Regions from separate parts of the Homo sapiens genome. Here region 1 is linked to region 2. The links come from fine-mapping of genetic effects on gene expression. Tissue or cell type: whole blood. Region 2 holds a variant in brackets; the other region holds the start of a gene. All regions are shown on one strand. Distances are between the middles of the regions.

Region 1 (7,841 bases), 54 kb before region 2:
AAAATTATTAGATCAAAAAGAACTTCATATAAAATTTTGATACATATAATTACCATGAAATTTTTAAAAATGCACCAATTTTTATACTCTTACTGTTTAAGAATGCTTGTTCCTCCCACGCTGCTCCCATACCACACATACACACACCCAATATTGTAGTATCAAATTTTTTTTATTTTTGCTATTGAGCTAACACAAAAGATCAAACTGTCAAATCAGGCTCAAATCAGAGATTTTACTCAGTATCAAGCTTTACTAATAGTTTCAAGGATACCAGTAATCCCCAGGTCCTTTCTTCTTGCTTTGGATGCATCCTGGCCCAGGACAGTAGATGTGGTTTCTAAATCAAGTGTACAGTCACCCCACTTACACAGAAGGAGCCAAATCAGTTACAAAACACTTCCATTTTATGCTACGTTACATAACTTCCGCGGTATTTTCCAGTTAATCATACCCCTGAAATCCGCATTGATTCTTTTTTGTTTTGTGAGAGGGAGTCTCATTCTGTTGACCAGGATGGAGGGCGGTGGCGCGATCTCTGCTCACTGCAACCTCCGCATCTCCAGTGCAAGCTATTCTTCTGCCTCAGCCTCCTGAGTAGCTGGTGTTACAAGTGTACACCACCACACTCAGCTAATTTTTGTAGTTTTGGTAGAGACGGGGTTTTGCCATGTTGGCCAGGCTGGTAACTCCTGACCTCAAGTGATCCACCTGCCTCAGCCTCCCAAAGTGCTGGAATTACCACATCGATTCTTAATGTGTTTACCATAAACAATCCCAGCCCTGGGACATCCTGTTAGAGGAATTCCGTAAATATGGACTCTCTTGCTAGCAAATGCCATTAGTTTGTTTGCCAGGAGGTCTGTAATTAGTATATACTTTATATTTTATAAAAATCACATGCTTTTTTGCTTGCTTTAACCTTGCTTTCCTGAGAGTATTTCCCTACGAAGGGAGAGACTGGATTGCAGATCTTCTGCTCAACTCCTTCTTTCTCAGTCACTGATAGATGAAAAATGGTATTTCCTTGTTCACTTTTACATTTTAAGTAATGTTGAACATTTAGCAACAAAATATTGAAAGCTAGAAGGGAGATGAATCAAGATGCAATTGCCTTAGCAGACTTGAAAAGTAGGAATCCCAAGCAGGCCATGAAGCAACCTGATACACACAGTGAAACCCTGTATAAGGCTCAGGAATTGGAAACACCACGTAAAGCTGAAGAGAGCATGATGTGAGCTATAAATACAGGCGGAATGGTATAAAGTCTGTTTAAGAATGAATCAGATGCTGAGATTCCCTTTGCTATCCCATCAAAAACCCAGAGATTTAGTCCTGAAAGACAGCAAAACGCTGATTCTCTAGCTAGGAGGACAGCAGGCCCTCTTAAGGATGAAGGTGTCATGTTGAAAAAGGGGAAAAGAAAATTAGAGGACTAACATCTGAATAACTGAAGCTCACTAAAAAGAAAATGGAGGAAATAAGTAACTCAAGTTGCTTGGAGTTCTGACTCTAAGCTCAGTGCTATTATAATCTTTTAGGCTTACTGGTATATTTGATTCATGTTAACTGTAAAATGACATTTTCTAAGTTTCACAAATATTGGGGTTAGTCAAAGGGACTTTGTTCAGGTGATTAAGGGTGGGGCTTGCATTACCCCTCTCCTAAGCGATCATTCCAAAATGACTGGCAGGACTAAAGAATTATGTTTAAAAAACAAAAAAACCCAAAGAATGGATTATCTGTAAAAGCTATGCAATGACGTGCCTGTTAGAGCTCACTGACCACACCTTAAGTTGTCTAAGAGATGAGGCTATAACTAGCTAAACTCTAATTGGCTAAGGCACCAAAGCCAGAAAATAGCCCATAACATGCAAATATACAGACATAAAATCAACTGTAAGTGCTGGGCACAGCTGCTCATGCCTGTAATCCCAGCTACTTGGGAGGCAGAGGCAGGAAGATCACTTTAGCTCAGGAGTTCAGAGCTGCTGTGCGCTATGATTGTGTCACTGCACTCCAGCCTGGGGGAAGAAGTGAGACTTCATCTCAAAAAAAAAAAAAAGATCAGCTGTAGAAGAAAAAATAATGTCAGGGTTACCTGTGGAGTCTGGGGGTAGACCCACTATCACACCTAGACAGGGATACAAACCATGAGAGGCTTCTCTTCTAAGTGGGCCGTTTCAGTCCAAGTTGCTGACTTGGACAGCAACTTGGACTGAATAAACACAGGCAACTGAGTTTAGCATTAAGCTTTCAGAACCTTCAACTGACAACTCAACGGCTGTTTCTAAATCTCAGAACATTTAAATCAGAATCTAGGTAGCACGTGGGCACCTACGTAGTTTTAAAAGCTTTCCAAGTGATTCAACTCCAAGTGAATCAGAGTGGAGCATCGTTGCCTTAGTCATGGCATCTTTCAAATTCGTTAGTACATTTTTACATAAAAATAAACATCAAACAAAAGAAGAACAACTTTTTGGTAAGAGGGTGTCTATTCTTTCCTTTCCTTTAGTGTCCGCAGATCTTTCCTCCTGCTGTTTTCTTGTCTACTCTTGTTCTTGAACACCCCCTCTTATTTTTATGTCTTTAGAAAGTGCCTGGCACAGTATTTCAGACAGTTAAAATACTGTATCAACAAAGGACCCATAGATACTGTATTAATTTTAAAAGATGTGTAGTGAATATGATTCAATGAGTAAAATAATCCAGCTGGGGCGTGGGAGGAACGGATAATAAAACAAATAAGAGAACGGAAAAACAAAATTAGGAATTGTTTCTGGTAGACAGCTACTGCGGGCGTGGAGATCTAAACATGATACCAAATTGGGCGGAGGGGGAGGGAGTGAGGAAGGAATGGGCAGAGTGGCGGAATGGCCTGGCGAGGGCGATTTCCTGAAGGCTTTCAGGTTACAACTAAGGGATACCGGGAAAAGAACACCGAGCCCTCGTCCCGTATCTATCTAAACTAGCCGTGTTAACTTTAAGTCAATCTCCTCTCTGAACCAGATATTCCTCCTATCTAAAGGGAGGAGCCTGGCCTTAACATCTCTTTCCAAGTCTAGCTCTAATTCTGTAAACAGGGGATCAAACAGATCTCCTTTCTTCAGAAAAGGCCCCAGACGAACCCGAAGCAGGTCCTCGAGCTGCGAGCCACTCTCCACTTGCCACTCAACGTAGTCAGCCAGAGGGACGGATGTGCCACCAAGCACCACCTTCTTTCTAACGCCTCATCACCCCAGCCACGCACTCCGGCGCGGCGCCCAGTCCCGAGCGGTTCTCGGAAGTTTCCCACTCCTCCCCTAATCGCCCTCCACGCACGCCGGATCACGACCGGAACGTGGACAACCAGTGGTTGTTCCTCCCCTAAAGCACAGCATAAATTTGGAGAGATGCATCTAAACTGCGTGTGGGTTCGGGCTCTTTTAGGTGAATAGGGCTCGGCGGATCGACTTCCTCGATTATCTCCGTGCCCTGGACCCGCCCCCTCCGCCTGGCGCCAGGCCGCCGAGCGCCGATCGGCTCGATGAGCGGAGGCGCTGCTGCGGCGCTGCGGCCGACGCCGGGTCCGCACCAACTGTCTCCCCCTCCCAGCTTCTTACCTCGGCTTCCTACTCCTTCCCCCGCCCGCCCAGCACCGCCAGCCCGGGAGAGCTGCCGGGAGTTCCCCGGGAGCCTCAGGTACTGGCGCTGGCCTGTTCGCAGCGGGAGGGGCTGGTGTGAGGAGGAAGGAAACGAAGAAGACGCCCCTGCCTTGCCGCCCCCCGACGTCCTAGTCGGGCTGGTCGGCGGGCCTCGGGGATCTAGGAAGGGACCCCGGAGTGGGAAAAGGTTGGGGCCGGGGGTGCCGTGAGGAAGGAAGACGAGGACAGGGGTATGCGGACGAGGAGCAGTTGAGGGAGAGAAGAATTGGAATTGAGGGGTACTCTGGGGTGATGGGAAGAGAACAGTACCATGGATGGGGAAGGTTTGTTAAGAGTGGGATGTAGTGAGGAATTCCAGGGGGTACAATGGGGCAGGAAGGGCCAGCGTTAGGAGCAGATATATCGTGGGACGTGGCCTGGTGTGACAGATTGGGTGTGGGGGGTGAACGGAGCTGCCTGAAATTGTGTATTTAAAGGGCCCGGGGGAAAGAGCGCCAACCCTGCTGTGTTTATAATGACCGGAAGGTGGGGGTGAATCGTTACACTTGACAGGTTTTGCAAATAATATCTCCGGTCTGTGTCCATCCAAGTCACTTTATTTCTGTGAAACTGCATCAAGCAAGAAGGCTGATGACAGACAAGGAAGACGAATCAGAAAGAGAATGGAGGCTGGGAAAAGGAGAGCCTTTGCCCAGATTCAAAGCTATTGACTAGATAACGTACTACTTACAAAAACGCACACATAGACATTTAAGTATATGCTGATGTATAAGAAGCATACGGTGATGTGACTCATTTGAGTGAATTGTATAGTGGTGGTCTATCCTCAATGTGGAAGTACATGATGGCTCTCTTATTTACATGTATACCTAGTCACAAACAGCTGAATTCACATGTCTTTTTTTGTAGGAGAAATCTTAGGCAGACTATATCCTAGTCTACTTTCTGAGCATGATTTATTTCTACTAGTTGTTTGATACACATATCAGTTACTAATAATCAGTTGCAAATAACATCAAAGTTCATCAAGGTAGCTAATTAATCTGCCTACTGCTTTGCTGATGGGCTATTTGTTGCACATGGTTTCTTGGGATTAAGAGACCTGAATATGGTGTTTGCTCATCCTTAAGATTGTAGTTTTACTGTATGTCTTATAAAGGCATTATATAAGTCTGCCCGTTGTTTGCTTTGGGATGTTGAGGCAGCCTCATTGCAGGGGTTAAAATCTAAATACAGATAATAGTTAAAAGCACAAGTTCTTCAGTAATTTGCCTTGTCATCTGTTTTTCCATGCATTCTGTTACATTTCTGCATGAATGAAGTATTCTGACATCAAAGTATGAGGAATAAAAGGGCCAGATGTATGTGACAGAAATATTGTGGAACCAAGAACTCAAGAGCTGTTACTCAGGCAGCAAGAATTTGGTTTTTGTTACAAGTGAATAATTTCTGATTTGGAAGCATTTCTTATCAAAGAAAAGTGTGTCCTTTGGTTTTGACAAGCAGCTGACTTAAAACATTACTTTTATTTGGTTCGTGAAGCCAGATCCTGGGATTATTCTTTTTTAAGTGTATATCATTAACAAACAAACTGATGTCTAACTATACCTAATTTAAAGGTCTAAGTGTTTCTTCTTATGGAAAAGGAAGCAGGACTATTGGGTTGTTAGCAGGAAGTGAGTCTTTCTAGAACAGAATTCTGTAAACCTGATGGGCAACTAATTGAACAAATGATTAAAACTGATAATGCACAGCCATTGATTAATTTAGGCCTGTATCTCTGCTGTTTCAATGAATGTAGTGACTAACGTTATCGTTACTAAACTTTAGTTTTCTCCTAGTTTCTTGGTGCCTACTTTAAAGAAGCATCATAAAGAGTAAAAGAAAATGCATGTGTATCACTGAGCACCGTGCCTAGCACATAGTAAAACATTCAGTATTTCTGAGCTATCCTGAATTGATGGGTATTCATCTACCATCTAGTCAAAAATACTGAAAATTCATTATTTGCATAGAAGAACTTTTTCGCAAAAAAAAATTTTAGTATGTTGCATACACAAGCATTTTCCTGGAAAGTCACAATGCATATTAGCATATAACAGGATGTGAGTCATTCTGTAGCAAAGAAAACTAGCTTTGTTTAATCCAGTTGTTTTGATAGAAAAAAATTGAGTTTCTCCTATTCTCTCTCAACACAGACCCCCAAAAGATTTCTCCTCACAAGCAAGGAGGAAATTCTGCAGCAGATTCTCCAGCTGGGTGTCCTCTAATTCAATTCTGATACTGTATACCTAGAGATAGCATCAGATCCTGCAGGTTGAGGGCTTAATCCTACAAGATTCCCCCCACTTCAGGTGCCAATCACAAGTTCCAGGTTGTTTTACCTGTGTTTCCAACTGACTGGCTATAAATCAGAGTTCCCACAATCCCTTCCTTGTGTTCAGTTTATTTGCTAGAGTGGCTTACAGAATTAAGAGAAACACTTTGTTTACTGGTTTATTATAAAGGATAGAGATCAACAGCCAGATGGAAGAGGTGCATAGGGCAAGGGGTACAGAGCTTCTGTGCCCTCTCCAGGTGTGCCACCGTCCAGGAACTCTCTACTTGTTCAGCTTTTGGGAAGCTCTCTGAACCCTGTCCTTTTTGGGTTTTATGGAGTCTTCCTTAGTAGGCATGATTGATTACATCATTGGCTATTAGAAATCAGTTCAACCTTGAGCCCTCCTCCCCTTCCAGGAAGCTAGGGGGTGGGGCTGTAAAGTCCCAGTCTTCTAATCATGCCTAGGTTTTTCTGTGACCAGCCTCCATCTGGAATCTATCTGGGGGCTAAGCTACCAGTCATCTTATTAGCATACACAAGACACATCACTGCAGCGATTCCAAGGATATGTCAGGAAATGGGGATTAAGACCAAATGAGTATATTTTGTAAATCACGATATCACACCAGTACTTACCAAACTTACCCCTTTTCATGGAGTACCAATGGGACATTATAGTTTGCAGAATATTTTTGCATGTATTATCCAATTTGACCGTCCCAACTCTGCAGAAGCCTGAAAATCAGTATTTTACACCTGAGGAAACTGAATCATTGCTTAAGCAACCAACTAAAAGTGAGAGAAATAGGCATGTTCTCCTGTCTTCTGACTCCAACTTTAAATTGTAAAGCATTTAATGTCTCAGTGAGACGTCCTCCCTCTACTCTCTGCTCTTTCATTTTATAAAAATCTTAAATCACTCATATCCTACACATGTTCTCTTAGGGCAATTACATCCATTTTCTCATAATTTTAACTATTTCTTAGGTGTTGAGGTCTAGCATGGAGGCCCCAGTCACTGGAGTGGAACAAGTGAGAGGGCAGGAATTGAAGTCAGAAAAATGAGGGAGTCCCTGTCATACAGGGTTTCATGTACACTGTTTTAAGTACATTAGCTTATGCCCCAAAGTCTCAAATCTGATGAAATTTATTTTCTCTTTAAGGTGGTGACTATCCTGTTGAGAAGCAAAAGATACTTTGCAAGTAAAAAATATGCCTCCCAAGTTTAAGCGCCACCTCAATGATGATGATGTCACAGGTTCTGTGAAAAGTGAAAGGGTAAGTTCGGAATCTTAAGCTTTAAAAACAAAAGATTCAAAATATGTTTTCATTCCCTTTGTGAATAATAGAAGAAAAACCATCCGGGCGTGGTTGCTCATGCCTGCAATCGCCGCACTTGGGACGCTGAAGCAGAATAGCTTGAGCCCAGAAGTTCAAGACTGTCTTGGACAACCCAGGGAGACCCTGTCTCTATAAATAATTTTTAAAAAATTAATGGGGCATGGTAGCACATGCCTATGGTTCCAGCTATTCAAGAGGCTAAGGCAGGAGGATCACCTGAGCCTGGGAGATGAAGGCTGTGGTGAACTGTGATCTGCACTCCAGCCTGAGCAACAGAGCAAGACCCTGTCTCAAAAATTAATTAACTAATAATAATAACAACAGAAAAATCAAAAGCTTATGACTATATTCTAATCCTAATTGTTTTCTTCATAGCAAATGTATTTAAAAACATGTTACTTAGATTGGTGACAACTGAATTCTACTTCCATTATTGATCAAATCATTATTCTCATAGCTTCTTTCTAGTTTTTGAAAGGGAGTTTTATACAAATACACAATATCTTATTCAGAACTTTGAATGTATTTGGAATTTT
Region 2 (7,841 bases):
AACACAACATACCAGAATCTCTGGGACTCATTCAAAGCAGTGTGTAGAGGGAAATTTATAGCGCTAAATGCCCACAAGAGAAAGCAGGAAAGATCCAAAATTGACACCCTAACATCACAATTAAAAGAACTAGAAAAGCAAGAGCAAACACATTCAAAAGCTAGCAGAAGGCAAGAAATAACTAAAATCAGAGTAGAACTGAAGGAAATAGAGACACAAAAAACCCTTCAAAAAATTAATGAATCCAGGAGCTGGTTTTTTGAAAGGATCAACAAAATTGATAGACCGCTAGCAAGACTAACAAAGAAAAAAAGACAGAAGAATGAAATAGATGCAATAAAAAATGATAAAGGGGATATCACCACCGATCCCACAGAAATACAAACTACCATCACAGAATACTACAAACACCTCTACGCAAATAAACTAGAAAATCTAGAAGAAATGGATAAATTCCTCGACACATACACTCTCCCAAGACTAAACCAGGAAGAAGTTGAATCTCTGAATAGACCAATAACAGGATCTGAAATTGTGGCAATAATCAATAGCTTACCAACCAAAAAGAGTCCAGGACCAGATGGATTCACAGCCGAATTCTACCAGAGGTACAAGGAGGAACTGGTACCATTCCTTCTGAAACTATTCCAATCAATAGAAAAACAGGGAATCCTCCCTAACTCATTTTATGAGGCTAGCATCATCCTGATACCAAAGCCGGGCAAAGACACAACCAAAAAAGAGAACTTTAGACCAATATCCTTGATGAACATTGATGCAAAAATCCTCAATAAAATACTGGCAAACTGAATCCAGCAGCACATCAAAAAGCTTATCCACCATGATCAAGTGGGCTTCATCCCTGGGATGCAAGGCTGGTTCAATATATGCAAATCAATAAATATAATCCAGCATATAAACAGAACCAAAGACAAAAACCACATGATTATCTCAAGAGATGCAGAAAAGGCCTTTGACAAAATTCAACAACCCTGCAAGCTAAAAACTCTCAATAAATTAGGTATTGACGGGACGTATCTCAAAATAATAAGAGCTATCTATGGCAAACCCACAGCCAATATCATACTGAATGGGCAAAAACTGGAAGCATTCCCTTTGAAAACTGGCACAAGACAGGGATGCCCTCTCTCACCACTCCTATTCAACATAGTGTTGGAAGTTCTGGCCAGGGCAATTAGGCAGGAGAAGGAAATAAAGGGTATTCAATTAGGAAAAGAGGAAGTCAAATTGTCCCTGTTTGCAGATGACATGATTGTATATCTAGAAAACCCCATTGTCTCAGCCCAAAATCTCCTTAAGCTGATAAGCAACTTCAGCAAAGTCTCAGGATACAAAATCAATGTACAAAAATCACAAGCATTCCTATACACCAACAACAGACAAACAGAGAGCCAAATCATGAGTGAACTCCCATTCACAATTGCTTCAAAGAGAATAAAATACCTAGGAATCCAACTTACAAGGGATGTGAAGGACCTCTTCAAGGAGAACTACAAACCACTGCTCAAGGAAATAAAAGAGGATACAAACAAATGGAAGAACATTCCATGCTCATGGGTAGGAAGAATCAATATCGTGAAAATGGCCATACTGCCCAAGGTAATTTACAGATTTAATGCCATCCCCATCAAGCTACCAAAGACTTTCTTCACAGAATTGGAAAAAACTACTTTAAAGTTCATATGGAACCAAAAAAGAGCCCGCATCGCCAAGTCAATCCTAAGCCAAAAGAACAAAGCTGGAGGCATCACACTACCTGACTTCAAACTATACTACAAGGCTACAGTAACCAAAACAGCATGGTACTGGTACCAAAACAGACATATAGATCAATGGAACAGAACAGAGCCCTCAGAAATAACGCCGCATATCTACAACTATCTGATCTTTGACAAACCTGACAAAAACAAGCAATGGGGAAAGGATTCCCTATTTAATAAATGGTGCTGGGAAAACTGGCTAGCCATATGTAGAAAGCTGAAATGATCCCTTCCTTACACCTTATACAAAAATCAATTTAAGATGGATTAAAGACTTAAATGTTAGACCTAAAACCATAAAAACCCTAGAAGAAAACCTAGGCATTACCATTCAGGACATAGGCATGGACAAGGACTTCATGTCTAAAACACCAAAAGCAATGACAACTAAAGCCAAAACTGACAGATGGGACCTAATTAAACTAAAGAGCTTCTGCACAGCAAAAGAAACTACCATCAGAGTGAACAGGCAACCTACAAAATGGGAGAAAATTTTCGCAACCTACTCATCTGACAAAGGGCTAATATCCAGAATCTACAATGAACTCAAACAAATTTACAAGAAAAAAACAAACAACCCCATCAAAAAGTGGGCAAAGGACATGAACAGACACTTCTCAAAAGAAGACATTTATGCAGCCAAAAAACACATGAAAAAATCCTCACCATCACTGGCCATCAGAGAAATGCAAATCAAAACCACAATGAGATACCATCTCACACCATTTAGAATGGCAATCATTAAAAAGTCAGGAAACAACAGGTGCTGGAGAGGATGTGGAGAAATTGGAACACTTTTACACTGTTGGTGGGACTGTAAACTAGTTCAACCATTGTGGAAGTCAGTGTGGCAATTCCTCAGGGATCTAGAACTAGAAATACTATTTGACCCAGCCATCCCATTACTGGGTATATACCCAAAGGACTATAAATCATGCTGCTATAAAGACACATGGACATGTATGTTTATTGCAGCATTATTCACAATAGCAAAGACTTGGAACCAACCCAAATGTCCAACAATGATAGATTGGATTAAGAAAATGTGGCACATATACACCATGGAATACTATGCAGCCATAAAAAATGATGAGTTCATGTCCTTTGTAGGGACATGGATGAAATTGGAAATCATCATTCTCAGTAAACTATCGCAAGAACAAAAAACCAAACACCGCATATTCTCACTCATAGGTGGGAATTGAACAGTGAGAACACATGGACACAGGAAAGGGAACATCACACTCAAGGGACTGTTGTGGGGTTGGGGGAGAGGGGAGGGATAGCATTGGGAGATATATCTAATGCTAGATGACGAGTTAGTGGGTGCAGCGCACCAGCATGGCACATGTATACATATGTAGCTAACCTGCACATTGTGCACATGTACCCTAAAACTTAAAGTGTAATAATAATAAAGAAAAAAAAGGAAAAAAAAAAAAGAAAGAGATGCGTGTGTACAAAAAAAAAAAATGATGTACCACAAGAACTAAATTGATTTTGAGCACCTCAGCATCTGCAACAGGATGAAACCGATGCTTTTGGAATTCAGAAAGTCATAAAGAGAGAAAAGGCAAGAAAAGAAGTACAATTAAATGTGTTATGTATACAGTTAGGTCAGCCAAAAGGGGAGCAAGTTAAAATAATTTGCCAGGAAACAAATTGCAACACAAACATTAAGCCCTTCACTGAAGCAGTGAGGAGTAGAATTGATTGAAGAAAATCAGTGATGCAGAAGAGAGGTTCAAGAAGCTGCCACTGAACACAGAGGAAAAACATCAAAACTGTAAATGGACAGTGTGATGTTAGATCTAGGAGACCAAAAAAAAAGGCCTACTAAGAATTACATAGTGTTCCTGTGGAAGAAATCCAAAAAGAGTGAAACAGAGCAATCATCAGAAACATTATTCTTTGATGTATTCTTTAATGAAAACTTAAGTTTTAATAAAGTCCTTCAGGAGAAAAAAAAATTATCAAAAGACACATTAAGTTACCTTGTAGTAGAGTATATGAATAGTAAGATTAAAGGGGTAAATTCTATAAGCATTGAGACCTGAAAAATGTGTTACCTACAAGGAAGCAAAAATTAAGCTTGCCTCCATCTTTTCTGCCACTGAATTATAGAATACTAAAACAGCATCTGTAGATTTTTGAGAGGATACAGCTGTGACTCAAGAATTTTTATACCAAACCAGTTGTCACTTAAGAATGAAAACCAGGCCAGGCACGGTGACTCAAGCCTGTAATCCCAGCACTTTGGGAGGCCAAAGCAGACGGATCACGAGGTCAGGAGATCGAGACCATCCTGGCTAACACGGTGAAACCCCATCTCTACTAAAAATACAAAAAAAAAAAAAAATTAGCCAGGTGTGGTGGAGGGCACCTGTAGTCCCAGCTACTCAGGAGGCTGAGGAAGGAGAATGGCGTGAACCCGGGAGGTGGAGCTTGCAGTGAGCCGATATCGTGCCACTGCACTCCAGCCTGGGCGACAGAGCCAGACTCCATCTCAAAAAAAAAAAAAAAAAAAAAGAAGAATGAAAACCATTGAGGATTCTATGGACCATTGGAAAATTTTTTAAAAAGAATGCAAACCAGGCTGGGCTCAGTGGCTCTCACCCGTAATTCCAATACTTTAGGAGGCTGAAGCAGGAGGATCACTTGAGCCCAGGAGTTTGAGACCAGCCTGGGCAACACAGTGAGAACCTGTCTCTACAAAAACTAAAAAAAGTAGCCAAGCATGGTGGCGCATGCCTGGAGTCCCAGCTACTCAGGAGGCTGAGGTGGGAGAATCATTTGAGCTCTGGAGGTCAAGGTTGCAGTAAGCCATGATGGCACCACTGCATTCCAGCCTGGGTGACAGAGCAAGACCCTGTCTTTAAAAAGAAAAAAAATGAAAACCACAAACACAATATTCTTAAAAATATGAGAGTTCAGAAAACATAACGTCCTTGTCTCTTTTCTTGATAAAAATTACTGGAAAATTTACATTATACTGGCAGCTAAGGGAGAAATCAAAATTGAGAGTTCAAAAACAGATAATTCTTCTACTTGAAACCCTTTGATGAAGTCTCATTGCACTTACAGTGAAAACTGAACTGCTTACCTTCCTTGATCTCATCAGTTGCTGCCAGGGTAGCATTCTGTTTTACATCACAGCACA[C/T]TCAAAATAATTCAAGGAGAATTTAATAAAGGTAAATTTATAAAGGTAGTAGGGCTTAAAGAAACTACAAAGGATAGTACACCTTGAAGGGTTGAGGGAAGGCAGAGGTTACTAAAACCTGGAAGGACAAAGTCACATGCAGAGGGCTACCTTGACTTTTGGCCAGGGGATGCAGCCAGCCTAAGGTGATCTTACAGGGAGGATGCCAGGGGAATAAATACCCTGGCCTAGTTGTTGTTTTATTCCCTGTGACCTGATGCTAGGACTCCGCTTTTTTTTTTTTTTTTTTTTTTTTGAGACAAAGTCTCACTCTGTCGCTCAGGCTGGAGTGCAGTGGTGCAATCTTGGCTCACTGCAAACTCCGCCTCCCAGGTTCAAGCGATTCTCCCACTTCAGCCTCCTGAGTAGCTGGAATTACAGGCACGTGCCACCACACCAGGCTAATTTTTGTATTTTTAGTAGAGATGGAGTTTCAACATATTGGCTGGCCAGCCCAGTCTCAAACTCTTGACCTCAAGTGATCCCACCTCGCCCTCCCAAAGTGCTGGGATAACAGGCATGAGCCACCACACCCAGCCAGACTCCCCTATTTTTGAACCCCATTGAAAAACAAAGGGCAAGGAATCCTAGCGGTGTAAGCCACACCGGTCACCATCCTGAAAGGAGGGTAGAAAGTGCATCTGATGCCCAGATTCCATTCCCCAGCTATTATTGTGGATGTTGTTAACGTTGGCTGCCAATGGCTCACATTTGCCCCCTTCTCTGGAGAACTGCTGTCAGCCAATGGGAGCCACCTCACCTCTGAATTATGTCCCATTCCTGGAGGTACCTTGGAGCCAATGGTAGACTGATATTGGGGTCAAAAAGGCTGAACCCCTTATCTGAAGGTGGGACAACTCCATGTTGTGATATATGCTTCAGATGCCACACACACCCTTGAATCTGGCCAAGGCTAGACTTTACCTGAGACCATTTTTGCTTGGCCCTTTCCCTTCATTGTCTTGCATCTCTTAGTCTCTTAGATAGTTGAACACTCCTTCAATAAATCACATGTACCTGAATCCCTGTAGCCAACTGTTTCTAAAGAGCCCAACTGAAGAGGGTTAGTACCAGTATTGGTCCCAGAAAACAGGTTCTAAGGATGGGATTCTGGAATTAGATCACCCACTGAAGAGAGAGCAATAAGGATCACATCACTGGTGGTAGGTGGGGTAAGTACTGATATCAGTAGTCTCTGACATGCAGTAGCAGTGCCATTCATTGCTAAAGTGTTCACCTCTGGTGAAGTGAGAGGGATACAAGTAGAGGGGAATGTGAAAGTCATGCCATCTCTGGCATTTGAGAGGAACAGGAGATACGGTCATTTTAAGGATTTTGACATGGAGCGGCTGCTGCTAAACTCCATTCTTAGCTTGGAAAAAAAGAAAACGACAGATGTGACAGATGCAGGGCAATCAATTGTGAATTTAAAGCAAGATATGAGAATCAGAGATCTCTAATTCTCTAATGGAGAGTAGTTAAAGAGACCTTTATTTCCTGAAGCTGAAGAGCAGAGAGAGTTGAAGACCAGGCCCAGAATTAGTTTTAAGGTGGCAGAATTTCAAAGAAGGATGAATTTTCGGCCTCAGCAAGTTTCCTATGCCAAAGTCAGGATCTTGTTAGGGAAAGAACAGGGCCTAGAGACTTGGGATGGGATATCTGGGTAGTCGCCCCTAAGGGTCTTTCTTTTCCTTTTTTTTTTTTTTTTTTTTGAGACAGGATTTCACTCTGTTGCCTAGGCCGGAATGCAGTGGCACCATCACAGCTCACTGCAGCCTCAACATCCTGTGTTCAAGCAATCCTCCTGCCTCAGCCTCCTGAGTAGTCAGGTCTACAGGCACATGCCACCATGCCCAGCTAATTGTTTTGTTTTTTATTGAGATGAGGTCTTGCTATGTTACTTAGGCTGATCTCAAACTCCTGGGCTCAAACAATCCTTCTGCCTCAGCTTCCCAAAGTGCTGAGATTACAGACATGAGTCACTGCACTCAGCCTACTTGAGGATCTTGAATGCTCAGATTCCCCAGAACTCCCTGGACCTGCAGAAGTGGCCCAGTCCCCCTTGTTGAAACATAAAACCCCATTTCCCCCTTCACTCTTGCTTGCTTGAAAGCTATTCAGTAGCCTCAAAACAAGGCAAGTAACTTCCAGGAGGATGCTGGCCCATCTCAGGATCTGCCCTCTACTACCTACCTGGCCACCAGACCCATAACCCCTCTGGAATCAAGGCTCAAGAGAGAAGTTTAATGATTTGCCCGGCACTTACACAGGTGATGTGTGACAGAGGCGAGGCTGTAATCCAAAGTGGAACAAGTGATCAGATTCTTTACGGGAAGCTGCAGACACTAAGGCAGTTTTCCTTTCTAAATAAATCTCTCAGACTTTCACTGAGTCAATAGAGATGGGAAACAGGTGATAAACAAGTATCATACACTCAGATTATTAAGTTACTACCCAGTCCATTTTTTTCATTAACCTTCTTTCCCATATGTAAGGCTGGCTACATAATTTCCAGGACCCAACGCAAAATTAAAATGTGGGGCACATTTTTAAAAGCACAGAGAACTTTGCCTGTGGCAACAGCCATGGTGAGAGGAGCGTGGCTCTCTCCTCTCCACCATGGCATGTGCTCGCCTACTAATATCGGTGTACTCTGAAAGTGGGGAGTCATCTGGCAAAAATGTCACTTTGCCTGCTGTATTCAAGGCTCCTATTCGACCAGATATTGTGAACTTTGTTCACACCAACTTGCACAAAAACAACAGACAGCCCTATGCTGTCAGTGAATTAGCAGGTCGTCAGACCAGTGCTGAATCTTGGGGTACCGGCAGAGCTGTGGCTCAAATTCCCAGAGTTCAAGG

What was found. PIP is the estimated chance that this variant, and not a neighbour inherited with it, causes the effect.
Region 1: it holds the start of VAMP4, and the variant in region 2 is fine-mapped to the expression of VAMP4 in whole blood (TOPMed, PIP 0.94).

The regions. Positions count from the first base shown.
Region 1 is chr1:171,737,750-171,745,590 of GRCh38, reverse strand. It overlaps VAMP4 (vesicle associated membrane protein 4), which reads left to right and starts at 3,526. Exons shown (of 8, transcript NM_003762.5): 1 at 3,526-3,681; 2 at 7,128-7,242. The coding sequence starts at 7,177.
Region 2 is chr1:171,684,197-171,692,037 of GRCh38, reverse strand. It overlaps the pseudogene RPL4P3. Among named protein-coding and RNA genes, the nearest start is that of MYOC, 35 kb to the right of the region's middle. The variant C/T (reference allele first, on the strand shown) is at 4,942.